Linked DNA regions of Homo sapiens: region 1 is linked to region 2. Evidence: fine-mapped expression QTL. A gene starts in region 2. The other region holds a variant in brackets. All regions are shown on one strand. Distances are from middle to middle. Region 1 overlaps LOC107984003 (a long non-coding RNA gene). Region 2 holds the start of MBIP (MAP3K12 binding inhibitory protein 1).

The links. PIP is the estimated chance that this variant, and not a neighbour inherited with it, causes the effect.
Region 1: its variant is fine-mapped to the expression of MBIP in whole blood (TOPMed, PIP above 0.99).

What each region holds. Positions count from the first base shown.
Region 1 is chr14:36,284,064-36,294,488 of GRCh38, reverse strand. LOC107984003 (a long non-coding RNA gene) reads right to left here. Exons shown (of 3, transcript XR_429356.5): 3 at 4,738-4,806. Among named protein-coding and RNA genes, the nearest start is that of MBIP, 31 kb to the left of the region's middle. The variant G/A (reference allele first, on the strand shown) is at 4,883.
Region 2 is chr14:36,314,250-36,324,674 of GRCh38, reverse strand. It overlaps MBIP (MAP3K12 binding inhibitory protein 1), which reads left to right and starts at 4,038. Exons shown (of 9, transcript NM_016586.3): 1 at 4,038-4,215; 2 at 7,863-7,982; 3 at 9,760-9,984; 4 at 10,067-10,163. The coding sequence starts at 4,087. RefSeq lists enhancers at 3,640-3,689, 4,090-4,349.

The DNA of each region.
Region 1 (10,425 bases), 30 kb after region 2:
GTTCCTAAGTTGAAAAATGCTGAAGATAGCTATGTGCACAAAGGTGATTTAAAAAATCAAAAGATGTAGAAATGAAAAAAATTCATTCTAATTGGTTCTTATAAATCTAAAAATGAAAATGTTTTGCAATAATCGCCATCATTCAACAAAATTATGTCATTAAAGCTTTAGACTTTATTTTTAATTTTTTTTTTTTTTTTTTTTTTTTTAGAGATGGGGTCTCATTCTGTCATCCAGGCTAATTTCTGTATTTTTAGTAGCGATGAGGTTTCACCATGTTAGCCAGGCTGGTCTCAAACTCCCAACCTCAGGTGATCCACCAGCCTCAGCCTCCCAAACTGCTGGGGTTACAGGCATGAGCCATTGCACCCAGCCTGATAGCTCATTTCTTCTGAGCACTGAATCACTGTCCCTACTTTTTACACAGGGAAAGCAGTTTGCCAGCCTTGCATGTTTACTTTTTTAAAAAGCAGAAGCATGTGAACATTTCACAATCCCCACATTTTCTAACACTTTTATACATTCTTTGTGGCCAAGGTTTCCTGAAGGAAGTGTCAGGGGGAGCGGGGAAAGAAATCTCACATGTATTCAAATTTTTTTGGAGCTACTTTTAAAAAATAATCCTTTGAAAGTGATTTTATGTTGCCTAAATATATGATAGATTTTTTTAAAAAATTTGATACTCTTTTAAAAATTTAATGTTAGGCATTTGGACTTTACTAAAATCTTCAGATTTAAAAATTATATCTTAACTCTCATGCCAGGAAAAATAGTCATCACCATTTACCATCTAGTTCCAATGAATCTTAAAACTTTAAAAAATATACATTTTAAGGCCATGCGCAGTGGCTCACACCTGTAATGCCAGCACTTTGGGAGGCCGAGGTGGCCGGATCATGAGGTCAGGAGTTTGAGACCAGCCTGACCAACATGATGAAACCTCGTCTCTACTAAAAATACAAAAAATTAGCCGGGCTTGGTGGCAGGCGCCTGTAATCCCAGCTACTCGGGAGGCTGAGGCAGGAGAAGCACTTGAAACTGAAAGGCAGAGGTTGCAGTGAGCCAAGATCATGCCACTGCACTCCAGCCTGGACAACAAGAGTGAAACTCTGTCTCAAAAAAATAAAGAAAATATATTTTAAGTCATTTTATGAATAATTTACTGAATTATAAGGAAATAGTTTAAAAAATAAACTTTACTAGAAATTTTAGTAAGAATTTAAACACAGTAAGCACAATTTTTATTTTATATTTTCTTAGTGTTGAAGGTAAAAATGGGCAACGTTGGTTGAATGTAAGTAACTGCTCAATATGTGCCATGAATGAACCTAGAGGATATCCACCTTGTAAATAATTATTCCATGTCTCAGATATGTTTCTTTTGGGTCCCAGTTCCTTATTACTTCCATTTCTTCTTGTACTTGCATTGCTGAAATGCAATACCTCTCGAAACTTTGAGCCAACCATGGTGGCTCAAGCGTGTAGTCCCAGCTATTTGGGAGGCTGAGGCAGGAGGATTGCTTAAGCCCAGGAGTTTGAGGCTGCAGTGAGCCAAGATCACACCACTACACTCCAGCCTGGGCAACAGAGTGAGATTCTGTCTCAAAAAAAAATTTATATATGTAATATCAAACAATGAAGAGCCATGGAAGAAATTTGAATGCATATTACTAAATGACAGAAACCAAGCTGAAAAGGTTACATGTTAAATGATTCCAGCTATACCATAGTCTGAAAAAGGCAAAACTATGAAGACTGCAAAAAGGTCAATAGTTACGAAGGGTTGAGTGAGGGAAGTTGAGGGGTGGAGATGAATAGGCAGAGCACAGAAAATTTTAGGGGCAGTGAAAATACTCCCTGATACTATCATAATAGATGCATGCCATTATACATTTGCTTAGACCCATAGAATGTACAACACCAAGAGTGGATCAATGTGAAGTGTGAACTTTGTGTGAAAATGACATGTCAGTATAAGTCCATCAATTATAACACATGTACCACTCTGATGAGGGATGTTGATAACGGGGGAGTCCATGCCTGTGTGGGGGAAGGGCGTATATGGGAAATCTCTGTACCTTCTCAGTTTTGCTGTGAACCTAAAACTGCTCTAAAAAAATAGTCCTTTTAAGTAGGGACACTTTCAAAAATAACCCATCCTTACATGACAAAATGCTTCAAATGTTCTTATTCTTGTGACTTGCAGTTTTTGGTAACCACAGCACTGTCTGAGAAATCCAATTTATTGCAAGTACTATTTTCTTGTCTTTAAATGGCCTTTGTAGGATGGTCTTTGTCTTACACTGCTTTAAATCACTAAGAAATAGAATTTTCTTCCAAGTTATCTTAAAATTAAAAGTTTGAAATATTTATATAATTTTAGATTATCAAGTTAATAGAATTTTTTTTGCCATTCTAGAATTGTGAAATTAGGGGTCCATTAAAAAACTATAAACTTTTCAAACATACAGAAAAGTACACAAAATCATATATCAAACAACTGTGTCCTGCCACCTAGACTTAATAAATGTTAATATTTGCTTCAAGTTTTTATTTTTAAAGAACCAGGCCAAGTGCAGACATAGATAAAATCTATCCCTTTCTCTCTCTCTCTCTCTTTCTCTCTCTCTCCAGTGAGAATCACAATCCTGAAGTTCATATGCATCATTCTCAGGCATTTTTAGTATTGTTTTGTTTTTAACACATTCTGTTAATTACATATTTGAAACTTGCTACATTTCACTAAACATTGGTTTTGGGTTTTAACCATACTGATTGATGTAGCTCTACTTTACCAATTTTAATTGCTATTTAAATATCTCAAATGTATGAATAAACCAGAGTTTATTTATTCATTTCCCAAATAAGAGATACCCAAGTTGTTTCTACTTCTTGTATTTCTTGTACAGGATCCTGACCTGTATGTGGTAGCCTCTGGAGTGAGTAACTATCCCAGCATATAGCTTCCAACTATGGAAAACAAGCTAGCTAAAAGATTTACTAGAAAGTAATTTTAAAAGAGGGATGAAAATTAACAAGTTATTTATGTATTACTGATAAAACCATACAAATATCTAGCAGTAGATAGGAAAGTATAACCAACCATAAAGTGTATATTCGATTTTTAACTATGGCAATTCTGTTTCTTTCCTATATCATCTCAGTTAATTTAAACATCTAGGCTTTAATAGCCTGGGAATTATGCTTTGAAATTCACTGCATTGCTAAAGGACTCCAGCCTTCATGTGGCAGCCTATTAAATAGCAGCTATTCACTGCCTTTTTTTTTTCTCCTGCTCTCAGAATCCTGATCTCATTTTTCTGTCTCAATAGAAAGACAAGGGGTAGATGAACTCTCATGCCAATTAACAAATCTAGAGAAAAAATATGACTGATGCTTGAAAGGTCATGGCCTCTGACCTTTATTTACCTGTCTAAGGTAAAATCCAAAACAAGGGAATTAAAAGAGCATTCATTCTGTTAACTTTCGTCTCTTGGCTGAGACTATCAAACCAATGTGTTATTGTGATTAAAAAAAGGAATTATAGAAAGTCTATTTATTCATTCAACATATATTGAATAACAAGGACTGTGCTGGGGCTGGGAATACACTGATGGAATTTCTGCCCTCCTAAGCTTTAATTAGTGTGTGTTCTTCCCCATAGCACTGACAACAACCCCAGTTGCTTCTTTTCAAGAAAATTAGGGGGTTCCGGAAACACCCAAGAAGCATAATTAACATGATCAAGAGGAGACATGAATGAAAATAAGCAGGAGAGGTAAACATTATTAGGGTTTGTGTACAGTTTGAGTATCCCGTATCTGAAATGCTTGGAACCAGAAGACTTTTCTATTTCAGAATTTTTCAGATTTTGGAATATCTGCATATACATAGTAAGATATCTTGGGGATGGGACCCAAGTCTAAACATGAAATTCATTTCTGTTTCATATACCCCTTATACACATAGCCTGAAGGTAATTTTGTACAATATTTTAAATAACTTTGTACACAAAATGAAGTTTGCATTTTGACTGAGATTCCTCACATGAGGTCAGACGTGGAATTTTCTACTTAAGGTGCCATGTTGACGGTCAATTTCAGACTTTGGAACATTTCAGATTTCTGATTTTGGGATTTGTGATGTTTAACCTGTATTCATTATGCAGCTTTTGTGTGCAAATTACAGAAAACTTCTATTCAACTGGCTTAAACTAGGGGAGGACTTATTACTATATGTAAAGAGAAGTCCAAGTTGGTTAATTCACAAGCTCTGTAACATTGTCCCTGAGGACCTAAGTTCTCATGTTTCTGATCTGAAGCCTCTAGGCCATTTCATGGTGGCAAGATGGCTGCCACACTTCCGGGTACCATATCCAGATAAAACAATATAGGACAACAGAAGAAATAGACCTCTTATGTCTCATTGGCCAGAATTGTATCACATGTTTCTTCCTAATCACTGGCAAGAAGAATTTTTATGATTAGCTTAATTTAGCTCAATTAAAAATGATAACCCACATGCCCAATGTTCTCTATTTATAACTGGAAAAAACAATACTGTACAAGCCAACTAAAGGAGGACAAGCATTGTGTAAAACTCAGGAGTATACAGACACTGATATGAATGGGAAATTAAAATCTCTGTGTTAAACAAATTAAGAGATTTGCATTTGATATTTCCAGCTGAAGATACTAGTTACCTGCAATAGGGAGATAAGATTAACGTTGGAAGGTGCCTATTCTTCCATAAACCACAAATCTTCCTGATGTTTTCTTGCGCTCAGCAATAATTACAAATCTGAAACTTCAAATGGGAAATATAACAGAAATTAGGCATCACTCAATAGTTAAACTCTTATTCATTTCATCAAGGAAACACC[G/A]TTACCGAAAGAATACTCTTCTCCCTCAAGAAATAAAAGTATGTTTCTGACTGTTTTATATTTTGCCAATGAGTTGAATTTTATGTTTTATGTTAATTATTAGAGTAGAAGAAATTCTTCTTGGATAAAATGATACTGCTGACAATACAGCAATAATCCACTGAATTTGTAGCATATTTTATGTTTTCAGAGTGCTTTCTCATACAGTAATCTGAGTTACATCTCATTCTTACTCCGGGAAGGAGTATATAACAGTGCTGATTCCTCATCTTTTAGATGTGAGAACTGGGACATGTCAAGAGTTAAAAGATTACCCAAGTTTCATGGCTAAGTAGTTAAAAGATCAGGATTAAAACTGAATTACTTTATTCCTAATCCAATGTTTTTGGAGCAATTTGGCAAGATCTTGTGTAATTTAAAATTATTTGATGCTATGCAAGGCTATTTTAAAAACTAAAAATAATCAGAATCTCACTTCTGAATAAATTCAGATATAAAATCTTCTTTCAGATTTTATCTTCTCCAATCTCGCCCCAGCTATTAGGTCCCTGAAATTTAGGGACCTTAGATTTTTTAGGTTCAAATGTTCTTTTTCCAAATGGTCCTATCCCTTTTCCCTATTGGATATATATATCATATTAACTCAGAATTCAGCAAGTCTCAGCCTGGACCCTTGTGTGACTTTAAATCCTACTTTAAAAGTTCTGAAAATATTCAGAAAGAGCCAAAAGTCAAAGTAAAAAAGAACAAGAGTACCTAAAATTGGGCTGGAAAAGGAAAATTTGAGAAAAATCTCACTAGACGAGTCTAGCATAGGAAAAACAACTCTCCCACTTTCCTGGGTTTCAAGGAGCAGAAAAGCAAAGAAATGTCATGAAGCATCAAACAGCCCCTATCTTTCAACAGTGATGGATGGTTGACAGGAAGCTAAACAAAGCAGCAGCTTCAAAGAAAGAGATAATTTTTTAACTAAAGCTAGAAGGGAGGAGCAAACATTTCCTTAAGAGAATTGTGACATGTCTTTTCCCTTTGGGAACGCTGATTTAAGTGGAGATTATAGAGAACATAAAATTTACATCTCCTGCTTGGACCGGACTCCAGTATCCAGTGGCCCACTCAAAATCTCCCCCTTGGATGTCTGGAGTCATGTCAGCTCTCCACTTTGAAGACTGAACTCCTGATCTTTTCCTCTGACCTGCTCCAGTCACGTCTTTCCCATCTCAGTGCATGGCAACTCCCTTCTTTCCAGGGCCTTGGGTCAAAAAACCTTGAGGCCGTCTTTAACTCCTATCATACATTTTGTCAGAAAATGCCGTGGTCTCTACATTCAATATATATTCAAAATCTAACCCTCTCTCATCGCTTCACTGCTACCATGCCAGCTTGAGCCGCCATCATACTAATCCCTTGGATCACTGCAAAAGCCCCTTGTGGTCCCCCTGCTGACCTTGCCATTCGGCTCTCTATTTTTCACACAACAGCCAGAATGATCCTTCACAATCGGAAGTCAGTTCACGTCACTTCTTTGCTGAAAACCCTACAATGGATTCTCAGTTCACTCAAGAGTAAAAAACAAAGTCCTTCCAAAGGCCTACAGGGCCCTACATGATCTGCCTGGCCTGCACCACCCCCCTTCCTCGTCTGACAAGCCCCCTTTGACTCCTGAGCCTCACCACACTGGCCTTCTCACTGCCTGGATGGGCTCTCCTGGGTTACTGTTCCATATCCCCTCATATCTTAGCTGAAATCTTACTTTCAATGGGATAGGATTGCCAGACAAAATACTGGGCACCCATTAAATGTGAATTTCAGATAAGCAATGAATAGCATCTTAGCACATGCCCCAAATCCCCCAAATTTAGCATGGGACACACATATAAAGTATTGGCTGTATATCTGAAATTCACATTTAACTGGGTGTCCTATTGTTGTTTTTGACTTTTTTTCTCCATCTGGCAGCCTTACAATGGTTTCTACCCTGATCCAGGCACATCCCACCTCCCCTTCACCCCAACTCCAGACTCCTCTCACCTGCTCTATATATTTTTTTCCTTGTAACACTCAGCTTCTTCCAACAAACTACATAATTTGCTTAAATATCATGTGTATTGTCTGTCTCCCTCTTCTGGAAAATCATCTCCAAGTAACCAGTTCCAGCAGAAAGGCAAGATTTAATTTGTGGTTAAATAATTTTATTTTTCAGCATATTTTTTCCCACTGTGTTGGAGTTGGAAGTTTTTTTATGAAAACACATGGGAAAACATAGGTGTTTCTATCTTTCCACTCTTAATATTGGTACACATCTAATACGTAGACACATAGGTTAATATAATTGATTCCCATTCAAAGCTAGCCATGTGCCATGAACTGCAGTAAAGAAGTATGTCTTCCAAAAAACATACCATACACATAGTTGACAAAAGAGAGAATTCCTATGGGGGGAAATAACAGTTGCCTTAAAAAAATCTAAAACATTTTGATTGAATGGCCCAATTATGTCTCTTCTTTCATACCAGCCAAACACAGGTAATTATTATATTTAAAATTAATAAACTTTTTTCTGCAGCAGAAAGGCCATCTGTTGAACTCTGTCATTCAGTCAAAGCTATAGAAAATGTAACCACCTTGTCTTCATTTATTCATTGAACTTATTGTCATTGTTTAGCCGTCATGCATGAAGCACTGTGTCATACGATGGGGTGGGAAGAGTGTGAGAGGGACCCTTGAGAGTGAAGAACGGTCCAGATCTGAAAAGCCTTGCAAATCACTGAATCACTGGCTTAAGGAGCCGGTGGGAAGAGCAGGTGGATGGCCCGATCAGAGTGGCACGTTAGAAAAATCACTCTGGCTTCTGGCTACAGTGTGCAGAATGGATCACTATGCTCGGGTACATTACATTTGGTTAATAAGTTATTTTTGTAAAGAGGGTCTTAACCTCTAGGCCTCAAAGCAAAAATTTCAGAAAAGGGCATTGAAGAAGCCACAAACCCATTTTTAAATAACTTATTATGGCCTGTTTAAATATAGTTTTTAAGGTAATTATCTGTATAGCAAACATCTGCAATTTTATTCAATTCTGTGAATTTTTACTAATAGATAAGAGGCAAAAATGGAGAAGAAGGAAGAAAGAACTGGCAGGAACTAACAATTTTGAGTAGTGTATGAGGACTTCTCATGCATTATCTCATTTAATCCTTACAATAAGCAAAGAGCTTACTGTATTATTATCTCTATTTGCAGACAGGAATTTGAGACTCAGAAAGGTGAGAAGTCCTCTGTAAGAGACAGGGCTGGGTAGCCTGCCCTCATCCTCTCCAAAGCCCGAGTTCTTGCCTCTGTAACAAATGGCAGATACATATACAGAACAGCTAAGTTAGGCAGCAGATGAGTAGGAGAAAGGCTGAGATAACCTTGAGTAAAAACAGAATAAAGGGGAAAATGTATAGGCCAAAGGGGAAAATTAATCGGCAAAATAAAAGCATGAGGAATTACCCTCTTGAAAAGAGCAAAAAGGCAACTGGCTTCTTGAATGAAGAGATATAGAGATGATCAACTTTGAATTTTTCAGCACATTACAAGTACAACCGTAACAGAATTGCCATTGAACTGCAGAATTCAAGAGATGGTCTTCTTGCAGAGGTACTAATATTAAAGATGAACTGCTACAGAAAAGAAGCCTACTTACTAACTTACTTTACACAACCCCTCTCACATGCCCTGGTATTTGACATTTGCGCGTGAGGCTTGATCAGCATCATATCCTCTGAAAGCCAGCTGCCTTTAGTAGATATGGCTGCCTGGCAGGATAACACTCCTTGCTATAGGGAACAGAAGGTATCCCGTCCCCAAAAGAAACCTTCACTCAGGTTTATGCCCCCAAACTCTTTGGAGGGAGATACCATCACCCTGACTGCATGCCCTTTCTAAGACACAGGCTAATCCAGGGTTAGTTGGGCAGACAATGGTCACCCGTATATTGAGATGTGAAGAGCATGGGAACTGTCTCCTTTAAAGCAGCCTCCCTCCTGCCCAGTAGGGATCTTGAATTAATATGTGTGGTTGAGTCTTTACCCCACTCACTTCATTCATTTTGGGTACTCCCCTACCAAAAACTCCAGGGAATGGAGCACTGAACTGCTGAGCTGAGATGGGGAGAGTGTGGTGGGGAAGGCGCTGGCCCAGGGTTATCAGCCTCAACAAGGCCAGCTAGGCAGGAAGCAAGTAAATCTATTTAAGTAAAGAGGACAGAGGCTGCATATCCAACATACCACAGAGTGTTGTGTACATAGAGTGTACAATCGATGTTTCTTATATAATTGTTGAGGTGTTATGAGAAGTAGGGATTAGGTGTCAGTCCCCAAACTACTGCTTATTTGACATGTTTTTCACTAGTTGTATCTGAACAGGCAAAAAAATTGCTTAGTTGCGCAATGTGGTGATGAAGGTAATATATGCCCTTCCCATGGGATATGCTATGTGCTGTGTGTGAGCTTTTGTCTTCCAAGTATGACGGGATGTTTATGCCTCTCTACTTATTATTAGCAAGGTACCAAAGAAAAAGGTGGAAGAGAAGGAAGAGAGAGGCAAGACAAAAACATACCAATACTCTTAGCTCCTTCCTGGCCACTAAGGCTTGTGTACAACTTTGTCCCAGAGGCAGTGTTTATTGAAGAATAAATTTTTGCTGAGAGACTTAAAATCTAACTGGCATTAGCTACCTAGAGATGGAAGGGGGAAGTCTTTGAAAATGTTGATTTAATAAACTAGCCAGCAGCCAGTACACCAGATGAGAACAGAAGGAGGGGAGAGAAACATTCCCTCTGCCAGAGCATTTTGCAGATAATTAAAGTAGAGACTTTGACTCACAGCAGGGCAATTTTAGCATACCTGACGCAGGGCTTGACTCAAGCTCCCTCAGTGTCCCTTCCAGTGCAGTTATGCTATTAGCTTTCATAATATTCCACATAAGGGAAGACACGTTTCTTCAAGCTATTCCATTTTTCAATTATTAAAGAGCTTTGAGTTTAAAAGTTCACCAAAAAACCCATCATGCCCCATCTTGGACATTACCCTTGTCTAATGGGTAGTAACAAGATCACTCTTTCAGACACTCAGTCCACATTACTTAAACATTCATCTGCTCCATTTCACACTTGGAATGGGCTGTGCAATAAACGTATTTGATCTTTTCTTTATTGTCTGTTTCAGGAATGTATGCAGGGTTTTCTTCTTTGCTATATAGGAGCAGATTTCTCCTTTGCAGTGTAGGAAGTGATTCACCTCTAGGAGGCTAATTTTTTATAGTTGAGTGCAGGATCTTAATAAATAAACCAAAAAGTGAAGTGCTATTTTGAACAGCCCTCACACCAGCAGGAAGAATCAGTGAATGAGGAACCATGGAAGACTGTTCACTACATACCCATTTACTCCAAAATATTATTTGGATCAGCATTGGATATTTTTAATAAATTATAAGTGATTCTTCTTTCTGTATTAATTAAGAATTTACACTACTCTTCAAGTGTTTTAACTCCCCCAGTGCC
Region 2 (10,425 bases):
AACCTCAACTGATACAGAAATTGGTATGAGATTTATTTATACCAGTAAGTAAATCTTCAAAAATGGGAGTTTGAGATTGGTTTAGTTATGTCCTTGGGCTTGACTGCACTGCTAAACTCCTTGCTAATAGGAAGTAATGTTGTGAGCCATTGCATGAAATGGCAATACAATTTGCCAATTATTATCCCAATTTACTTGATCATGAACTGTTTTGCTAAAATTAGCACATTATAGACTAGCATTCCATAAAATACACTTTAGGAAATGCTTGCTTAGCCATACTTCTCTATTTAATGTATCCTCCCTAAACATATTAAGCATGTTCAAGTTGCTGTTCATGTTTTCTATAAATTCCTTGAGAATTCTTATTTATCAATTCATATTTTGATATCAAATTCATATTTTTATCAATATCAATTCAGATTTTACTTTAAGTGTTTATAGCTTTTCCTGATTCTGGACCCAACCCCCTCCCCAAAGGAACTAATTGGCTGCATTACTTTATACATACCTCTAATATGGCCATTGTCACATTATATGAAGTTGTTTGTTTATATATCTACCTATCCCACTAGAACGGGAGCTCTTTGAGGAACAGTCCTTGTCTGATTCATCTTTGTAGCTCAATGTCAATTAGAGTGCCTGGTATATAGTAGGTACAATTAATTTGTATGTGTAAAATTATTGAGAATGGTTATGAAGGCTAGCTATATTTACTCCCTTAAGAAAACTTAGAACACTTTGAATTTGCTGCCACAAAAGAGAATAAACAGACTTGTTTCGTTATTTAAAATAAATTGTTTATAGCAGTCTATATGTTACAATTTTCCTTCAACAATAGGCACTTGTTTACTTTTTTCCATTTTATAAATCTGTTCACTTATGAAGGCAAATAAATTCAGCTCAACAGGCATATACTGAGCAATTAACTCTGTGCCAGAAACTATGCTAAGCCTTATGTACACCAACATATAAATGCTTATAGTTCAATAAGGAGACAGATATAGTCAAATAAATTCAAGTATCACTGTGATAACTACAATAATAGAAGTATATACAAGTTGTAGGAGTAGTTTAGCAGAGGAGAAAATAAGCTCTTTATGAGGGGGGATTCCCCAAAGATTTTCTAACTGGAGTTTGAAAATGGAAAAGGAGTTTCTCAAGCAGACAACAGGCACTGGGTAAAAATCAAAGCATGGAGGCAAGAAATAGTAAAGTGTTGAAGACATAAAAGCAGTTTCAGAAGCACTAAGCACCAGATGGTTTGTGGCAGAAAATGAGGCTGGAAATTTAGGCAAAGGCCACATCATAAGAGCCTTCATGTCATTCTAAAGAACTTGGACTTATGCAGCAGGTGATGGGGAGACAGGGACGACAAATACCATTTATTTTACTTTTTCTGCATTGAAATAAAATCTGTATTATCATATATGCAACAAACATCAGTTGAGCCCTTCTAATACCTCAGGTATTTTGCTGGGAACTGGGTTATTCAATAGAGTTATGCCATTAAAGCTCACCATAAAAGACATTTTTGTTGATAAGGTAAATAGCCTAGATTTCATTTATAGTCTCTATCCTCCCAATTGATTCTTGGCATAAGCCTGCTGGACAGTATTTCTAACTCTGTTGCTAACGCGAACACCAACACTTTGAATCATTTCTGCCAGGCAGCAGATTTTTCAGCAACCCACTTTATAAACTGTAATTAGTTTTCCATAAAGAGCAAATTATTCCCTTTATTCCCTTTCTAAATTTCATAGCGCATATTATACTTTTGTTATACATACATACACACATACAATATCTACAAATTTCTATTTTGAGTTGGCCCAAAGGAATCCAAATCTTTTCAGGCTACAAACTCTTCTATTTAAAATAGAATTTTCTATTATAAAATAAGAAAATGAGAAAAATTTCCAAAATGAAGGTAATAGGCATCAAGAAGAGTAAGAAAGGTCCTTAGAAAGAAGAAAGAATGCACAAAAGAGTTAACAAATTTTAAGTACTACTGGTTGAGTATCCCTTATCTGAACTACTTGGGACCAGAAGTGTCTCAGATTTCGGATTTTTTTTAGATTTTGGAATATTTGCATATATATAATAAGCTATCTTGGGGATGGGACCCAAATCTAAACACAAAATTCATTTATGTTTCATGTATACTTTATACACATAACTTGAAGGTAATTTTATATAATGTTTTAAATAATTCTGTGCATGAAACAAAGTTTTGACTACATTTTAACTGTGACCTGTTATGTCGGATCAGGTGTGAAATTTTCCACTTGTGGTACTGGCACTCAAAAAGTTTCAAATTTTGGATCATTTTGGATTTTGAATTTTCAGATTAGGAATGCTCAACCTGTACCTAAGTAAAGAATACTAAGATACAAGTGCAGGTCTGGATATCAAATCACAGAATTACATGGAGAAGCAATACACAGATCAAATGGCCATCAGTTAATTCTGTATTAGAGGCTCAAAAGAACAAGTAAAACTTGAAAATTCAAAATCAATGATGGCAAAGAAAGGAATAGCAGCACCTTGTTAAAGACAACATTTTTTAAATATACAAAGCATATTCCCAAATGTGTTGCATATCAGTGTTCTCCATATTTGAAAAAATATGAAACACCTCAATGAAAACAAATGATCTGAAACTGATTGCTAATTTGGTACAAAACAAAAACTTACAGTTACCCCATTACCATGCTTGAATAAGAAGGTTGCTCAATTTGAGACTGGACATTGTGAAGTATTTTTCTGCCTGTAGAAATAGGCTGGAATGTCAGTTGTATATCTTGCTGCCAACAAGGGAACAGAAAAGATTTCCCAAGATTCTGTCAAGCCTGGTGATCCCATTTGTCTTTGGAAATGAAAGCCTAATTAAGAGACTCCCTAGGGACAGGTCAAAGGAGTTTTTATCCCCATCGTCCTTATCTTAGTTCCTTGATGCATTAGTCCTTCCCTTTAATTTAGTCTACCCTAAAACTAAAGAATACACATTGTGCAAGTTTCCACCTTTGCTTTCTCTACTGTAAATGCATTAGACTATTAACAGAATTACGAGTTTTAAATCCCACCTTCCTTATCTCTAAGCTGATGTTGATTTCTTAAAGTGTTTTTGAATAAAGCTTAACACTAAAAATTATTGTAATACTTTAATTGGATAACACTTTTTAAAAATATCGGAGTCTGACTAAAAGATTACAAAACCCCACAAACATCGTTATAATAAAGCTATTATGATAAATAATACTTTGTAAAATTTGAATTCGGTTTTATGTCCTAATTTCAAAGATTGTGGTTGCATGATATTATTTATCCAGGTTAAATTCCTGTTGGAATTATATTGACAGTGTTTCATTTCTTTGAAACAATTTTAGGGTTAAGCGTCTCTACAGTTAAAACAGAGAATATCAACTGTAGTCCCAGTTACTCAGGAGGCTGAGGCAGGAGAACCGCTTGAACCTGGGAGGCGGAGGTTGCAGTGAGCCGAGGTAGTGCCACTGCACTCCAGTCTGGGCGACAGAGTGAGACTCTGTCTCCAAAACAACAACAACAAACTTGAAGAGATGAAAATGTTCTATCCAATCATGATAATTCCGTGTGAGTTTTCCAATGTTTAGAAACACGTGTGGGCACCACTCCATCCCTGACCAGCAAGCTTCCTCCAGACCCACTCCACACCGCCATGTTAAAATGTCAACTTTTACTTTTTGGACTCAAACTACAAAATTTAACTATGTCTCCTCTTACCAAGATTCACAATGAACACCTAGGAGTCAAGGTAGGCTTCATAACGCTAAAGAGACCACGACTCTAATGACCACCCCAAACACAGCATTCCAGCCTAGCTGTGGTCTGCAATTACCCACTTCAGAGCCTCGGCGCAATGTCACAGCTGCAACTGATTGGTGTAACGTGCTTGTCATTCACATAGAGAGGGTGGGGCCTCAAAGCCCGATCTAAACCAGACTCCGTGTCTTACGTCATCGCCAAGCGACTAAAGCTGGAAGGGAGGGGGCGGGGTTGTGAGCAAATCTTGGTGGTGGTGGTGGTGGGGCGGCCTGAGAAGATATCATGGCTGCTGCCACGGAGCTTAATCGCCCGAGCAGCGGTGACAGGAACCTGGAGCGAAGATGCAGACCCAACCTCTCCCGAGAGGTGCTCTACGAAATCTTTCGCTCCCTACACACCCTGGTTGGACAGGTGAGAGGTGGCCTGAGGGACTGGGAATATGGAAACCATCCGGTCCCTCCTCGCCATTCTTTTTCTCTAGCAGAGGCCGGGGGCAGCTAGGCCTGCAGAGGTGTGGGATGCGGTCCCGAAGCCGAGGTGTGGAAGGAGCCCGGGCCCAGCCTCCTCGGTCGGAGTGAGGAGGACGGCGGTACCGGTTGCAGAGTCGTTTACCTTGCAGCTGTCCTCCCCAAGAGTGGGTGAGGTTGGCCTAAGTGAAAACCCGGCTCCGAGAGAGGCAGGCTTGGAGAGAATGAATGTGGAAAAGCTTCACTGCGAGTTTAGGAGGCGCTTAGCGTTCAGGGTCCTTTTTCCTCCAACTTACTCTTTATGGGAATTGGTTGGTCAGTAGGCCTGAGATTTATAGAAAAGCGCGCGCTTATTAGCTTTTTTTGGTGGGGGAGGGAGTAATTTGTTCTTATGAGTTACTTGGTTTTGTTTATTTCTTTTTTCCTTCGGGCTGTTTTGCGCATCTATAATCCTTTCAAATGGGGAGAAAAGTAAAAGGAATTCATTTAAAATACTTCTAGCGTAAAATGCTGTTGGCGTTAGAACTGTCGTTATTTAACTATTAACTAGTTTAACTGGCTGATAAATCGCTTTTGCAGAAATGTCATAGTAAAATTGGTTTTAAATTGAAATGGGCTTCTTCGATCAAGTCACTGTTTCGTTTCATGGTGTAAAATTCAAGTTTTAAATGAGAAACAATTTAAAAGTATGCTTGTTTACCTGCCTTTTAAAAGGAAATATTTTCTATCTTACATAGACCATTTTCTAGCCGTAAAAGTTTGTTTTGGGGCTGGTACTAGCGCAAGTGGACAAAGCAGGCATTTGTGTCAAAGATAATGGTAAATTCCTATGAAAATAGAACATTTGTCTGATTTGTGAAAATTATTTTTAAAGCCTTGAGTAGATGGAGAATCAGTCTTTTAAGAAGTTACTATTTTTAAAAATCGTAGTATGTTGTGTCTTACAAAGAACATTACTGTAAGTTAAACGGTTTTATGAAATGACGCAGTTATTAATGGAGTCTGCTTAAAGATATAACTTTTAAATTCAGTTGTTTGCCAAGTACTTACCAAAAACATTTTTTAAAGACTTGGGGTGTTTTGTTATTAACATTCCATTCTTAAGACCCAAGACGTTTAAATGGTTTAAAAGTTAGAGAACTTTTTATGGCGACGTTGGAACTTAAGTTTATTTATTTTATAATGTCAAGATGAAAAAAGTTTATTCTCACCTGTTAACAGAAGATGGAATATTTTTAAAAAATACTGAGCAATGATTTAAACATTTCTTTTGAAATATTTTGCATACTGAATTTTTCAAACTCATTAGAAAATTTTAAACATTCAAGTACTGTACAAGTAAAGAAGTGATTACAATTTACTTATGTCACCTGTCAAAAATGTTCACAGTAAATATTTGGTTACTTTACCATGACACAGTGAAGGGACCTCCTATACAAGTGTCAAAAATATGATTGTTTCATCAATTAAATACAAACTGTTTTCATAATACTCTATATTTTGAGAAGTGTTAAGAGTGAAAATTAGAGTTCCATACTTATAAAATTGCCCCCAGAGAAATCAGTATTTTCTTTTGCAACCACTTTAAAGGATATTTAGAATGTATGTTGTAACATGCCTAACTTCATCCTGTGTCATCCCTAAGTATCGTTGTATTATTAGATCTCCTCAGTAGGAAACATAAAACTGAATGTTAAAAATAATTTTTTACTTAAGATCACAAAATTTACTAATTTTAACCTTTTTGCTTGCCTCTGGATGGTCCATCTTACCAAGCTAAACAATTATTTATTTTTAGCTTGGATTTTTGTATTAATTTAGTAAAGTTTTTACTGAAAATATATATTTAAATAGTCTATATTAATAGCAGACTAATAGAGATTTTCGAGTGAGTGGTTTACTCTTCCAAGTTCTGTAGGGCAAAATGCATAGAGTTCATATTACTAATAATGAATTTGTTGAATGAATAGTTAGATGTATTAGGACAGTTTTAAAATTAATTTGTGACATTATGTGGTTTTCTTAAAAGACTAATTATTCTTAATTGCACTTGAAGCTTATGTAATTCTGCTGAATTGAAATGAGAATATGAACCAAACATTAAGACTTATTTTTCTATAAGTTATTTTCTCTAGAAAATGTGATACTTTGCTTTGGTTGAGGATTTGCCTGCTTTATCCCCAAGCTGTATTCTTAAGTTTTCTATAATCAACTATAGATCTCCTTGAAGACTATGAAAGTACATTAATGGGTTACTTCCATACATAATACAGGTTGTTGTCTAACAAAATCTTTATAGGAATTAAAGTAATATAAATTAATGCATTAACTTTAATGTACAATCTTAATATATTCTAATCTTTGCCAGTGCAGCCTACATGAAATTTCATATCTCTTTATACTTGTCTAATATGGACTTTTAAATGCTTCCATTCTCATCTTCAAAGGGCAGTAAATTTCTGTCACATAGTATTTATTCAATATATTATCTTTTTATTGGTAACCTTATATCTTTTTGATCTTTGTACAGTGATTCATCTTTTTTATTATAATTGTGACTCATAAAATCTGTATTTGAACTCACGTAACACCTTTATTTTGTAGAAAAGATGACTCATTTTGAATAAATTATGTTAACTTGATTCTACTATGAAGTATAGTCTTATACTATGCTGTAAACACATGTCCCTAGAAAAGTTTTTGATGGTTCACTTTTATTCATTCAAAAGACTGCAGATGGGCGCTCTCATTGTAAAATTTTCACTCATTTTGATAATAATCTTATATTCAGGTTCTTGGTAGTTTTCTGGATATGATTTTATTCTATTAGATCACCAACTGATAGAAATTTCCATATAATGAGCTGTCACATCTTAGCATTTACAAAAGATCTGGACATTTCATCCAGTCTGACAACTTATTTCACTGTGGTGGAGAAGTCTTTGTTTTTCAGCTTCAGACTTCCATTGCTAAATAATAGTTTTTTATTTGAAATAAACATGTTGCCATTTATCCCTACACTTTATATGTATGAATAATCTTGACTTTTAAATTAGTTTAAAAATCGGTTAAAAGTTAAAAAACTAAAAATGTGATTTGGAGGACATCAGAATAATGATATATTTCTGATATGTATTTGTGTACATACTTAAAGAGAAAGATGCATGTTAAAACTTTCACAAAACACTTGTACTTCCTCTGTTTAAGGCTCTGAGCTAGAAGTAGTAGGATTCTGAATAGGGCAAGCCTATATTGGACTCCATCCAAAGGTTTGTATATATTGAAGTATCAAAAGAGCCTTCATCTTTTCATCTTTCATGAATGGTTTTACCTCTAAAATGGTCCCATTACACAGACCTAAGAATAGAATTTGAACGACATGTCATTTTGTTTTTGTTTTTTTATGAAAATCTGTAGCTTTCTTGGCCTTTTGAAATGGTAACTGGGTAGAGCATTTCAGTGTATTATTAAAAACTTGATAACTTAGAGCAAAATAGACCCGTTACTCTAGAAATCTTATTTTTGTGACAATTCCATATGTAGAGCTTAATCGTGTAATTTTTGTGATGTTGCTGGTTTGCCCCTTTGAAGCTTGACCTCAGAGATGATGTGGTGAAAATTACAATCGATTGGAACAAGCTCCAGAGCCTCTCGGCATTCCAGCCTGCATTGCTCTTTAGTGCACTTGAACAACACATTTTATATTTACAGGTAAATTTCTTGTTAGAAATGATAACCCGATATTGAAAATAGAAATTGATTGTGGTTAAGTTAGTTGGAGTATTTGACAGTTCTAAACACTATATTAATAGTGTTGCTAATAAAACGTTATTTACATCCGGATTTAATCTAAATCTGTTAATTTCAGTAGTGATCAGGACAGTTAAGGGAATATAGCCCAAAAGACCAATGTGGGTATGAGTGAATGAATGCAATTCTATTCAATTCTAGACCTGCACTGAAAATTCAATACAGTTCCATCTATGGTGGGTTATAATTAAGCAATAAGACACGGCAGGTGTGTGTCATGCTATGATAATGATTCCATGCCTTGGGTGAGTTTGGAGGCTCATGGAGTGCTTTCAGTGGTTCAAGAAGGGGCATTATCCCAGCATGACACATCCTGGAGTGTCTATTGCAATTAAACAGTTTCAGCATAGTTTTTAAAAAGAAAGTAATTTCTATGACATTAATGTCTCATCTTAGTAAGTAGCCAGTCACTATTTTATCATTTCTTTTCCTTAACAGTTTGAAATAATTCATTCTTTATATTAGAAGTTAATATTGAATTGGTATTTATAATAGTGTTGTTATATTTTTAAATATTTCATGTTAATAACTGAACAGTATTATGACCTTGCTGGTTTCTAATTGAACATCTTTGCAATTATAATTGATGTAAGTTTGCAGTTTATCTCTAATCAAAGTGTAAAATGTGAAGTGTCAAAAAGATAAGTGGAAAAACTGGATTGGTCAGTTTACTGTGATTAAGGTGTTATAAGATTTCAAAAGAGTAGTATAGCGAACAATGGAAGCAAAATTGTAGGTATGAAAAAAATAATTGGAACGTTATTAGTGTTAGTGTGTTTTGACTAATGGAATAGGCATTAATTTTCAGCCCTCCATTCATTGACTTTGTGGGAAATTTTAACTGTTTCATGTTAAAAGTAATAGTTAACCCTGTTTTTAAAGGGCAGAGCAGTGAGCTCTAGAACTCAAATGAGACCTCATTGTGGGGAGTGGGGGAGGGGAACAGTAAATGAGTAATATAGTTTAAATTCTACAACAGGGGTTTTCCCCCTGTAGTATAGTGATAGGCCTCTGCCTGTTTTCAGCTATAGATCTTTTTTTTTTCTTGTTCGTTTTCTTTTTTAAAATTTAATTTTATGACCAAAAGATATCTTGCCATGTCAGGAAAAGTCTGAGTGTTCACTCAGCCTAACACCTATATATTTCATGTCTATGCTTCCTCATTCACATTGGCCAACTGCAGTTTCAAGTGGAGAATCTCCAGTGATACAGTGATAATGCAGGGCTTTGCTGAGTGAGAGCACTAGCTCTCGTGTTAAGGAGGAAAAATACTAAGCCTTAGTGTTCTGAGGAGGCATTTGAATGACATGTTAATTAAGTGGCATTGGTGCCAGAGGCTGAAGGCTTTGATTTGGCACAAAATAAAAGATGAGTGACAGAATGATTCTCTCAAAGAAAATTTTAAATTTCCTTAGGTTTTCTTTTCTTTTTTCTTTTCTTTTTTCCTCTCTCCTTTTTTAAAAAACAAATTTATAGCAAATGATAATGGTTACAATAGCAGAGAATAGTGAGTACTTATATGTGGTCAGATCTATGTGTCCTGGTATACCAACTTTTTATATTTATTAACTGATATTAAGTATTTCATTTACTTAGCAGAAATTTATGTAAATATATTAAGTGTGTAATTAATTTTGGTCAGATTGAACCTCAGCAGATGGAATTGTGTTGTTCTCAGCCTTTTTTAGCAAAACTTCAGTCTCCGATTAAAGAGGAGAATACAACTGCTGTTGAAGAGATAGGAAGAACAGAAATGGGGAACAAAAATGAAGTAAATGACAAATTTTCCATTGGCGACCTACAAGAGGAAGAAAAGCACAAAGAAAGTGATTTAAGAGATGTGAAAAAGACACAGATCCATTTTGATCCAGAAGTAGTTCAGATAAAGGCTGGAAAAGCAGAAGTAAGAAGGTTTTTTGGCGGGGGCGAGAGGGTATTATTTTAAAAAATCTTATGTTTACACTGTTAAAACTTGTTGTTTGTAGATTGACAGACGAATATCTGCATTTATTGAAAGAAAGCAAGCTGAAATCAATGAAAACAACGTCAGGGAATTTTGCAATGTTATTGATTGTAATCAAGGTAACTACCTGGAAATTAATTTTCATAGGGTTTTAAGCACAATTTTTATAGTTGCTCTAATCTTTTATTTATTTTTTAAATGAATAGCTTTTAGAACACAATTCAATTTATTTCATGGATTTAGTTAGTAATTAAGACAGTAGAGTTTCCTTCTGCTTAATAATAGACTATATTGCAAACTGGTTTTCATTTTGGTTACACAAAGTAAATGCTAACATTAAAAAGTGTTTATCACAGGTGAAGATTATTTTAAAGTTCCTTT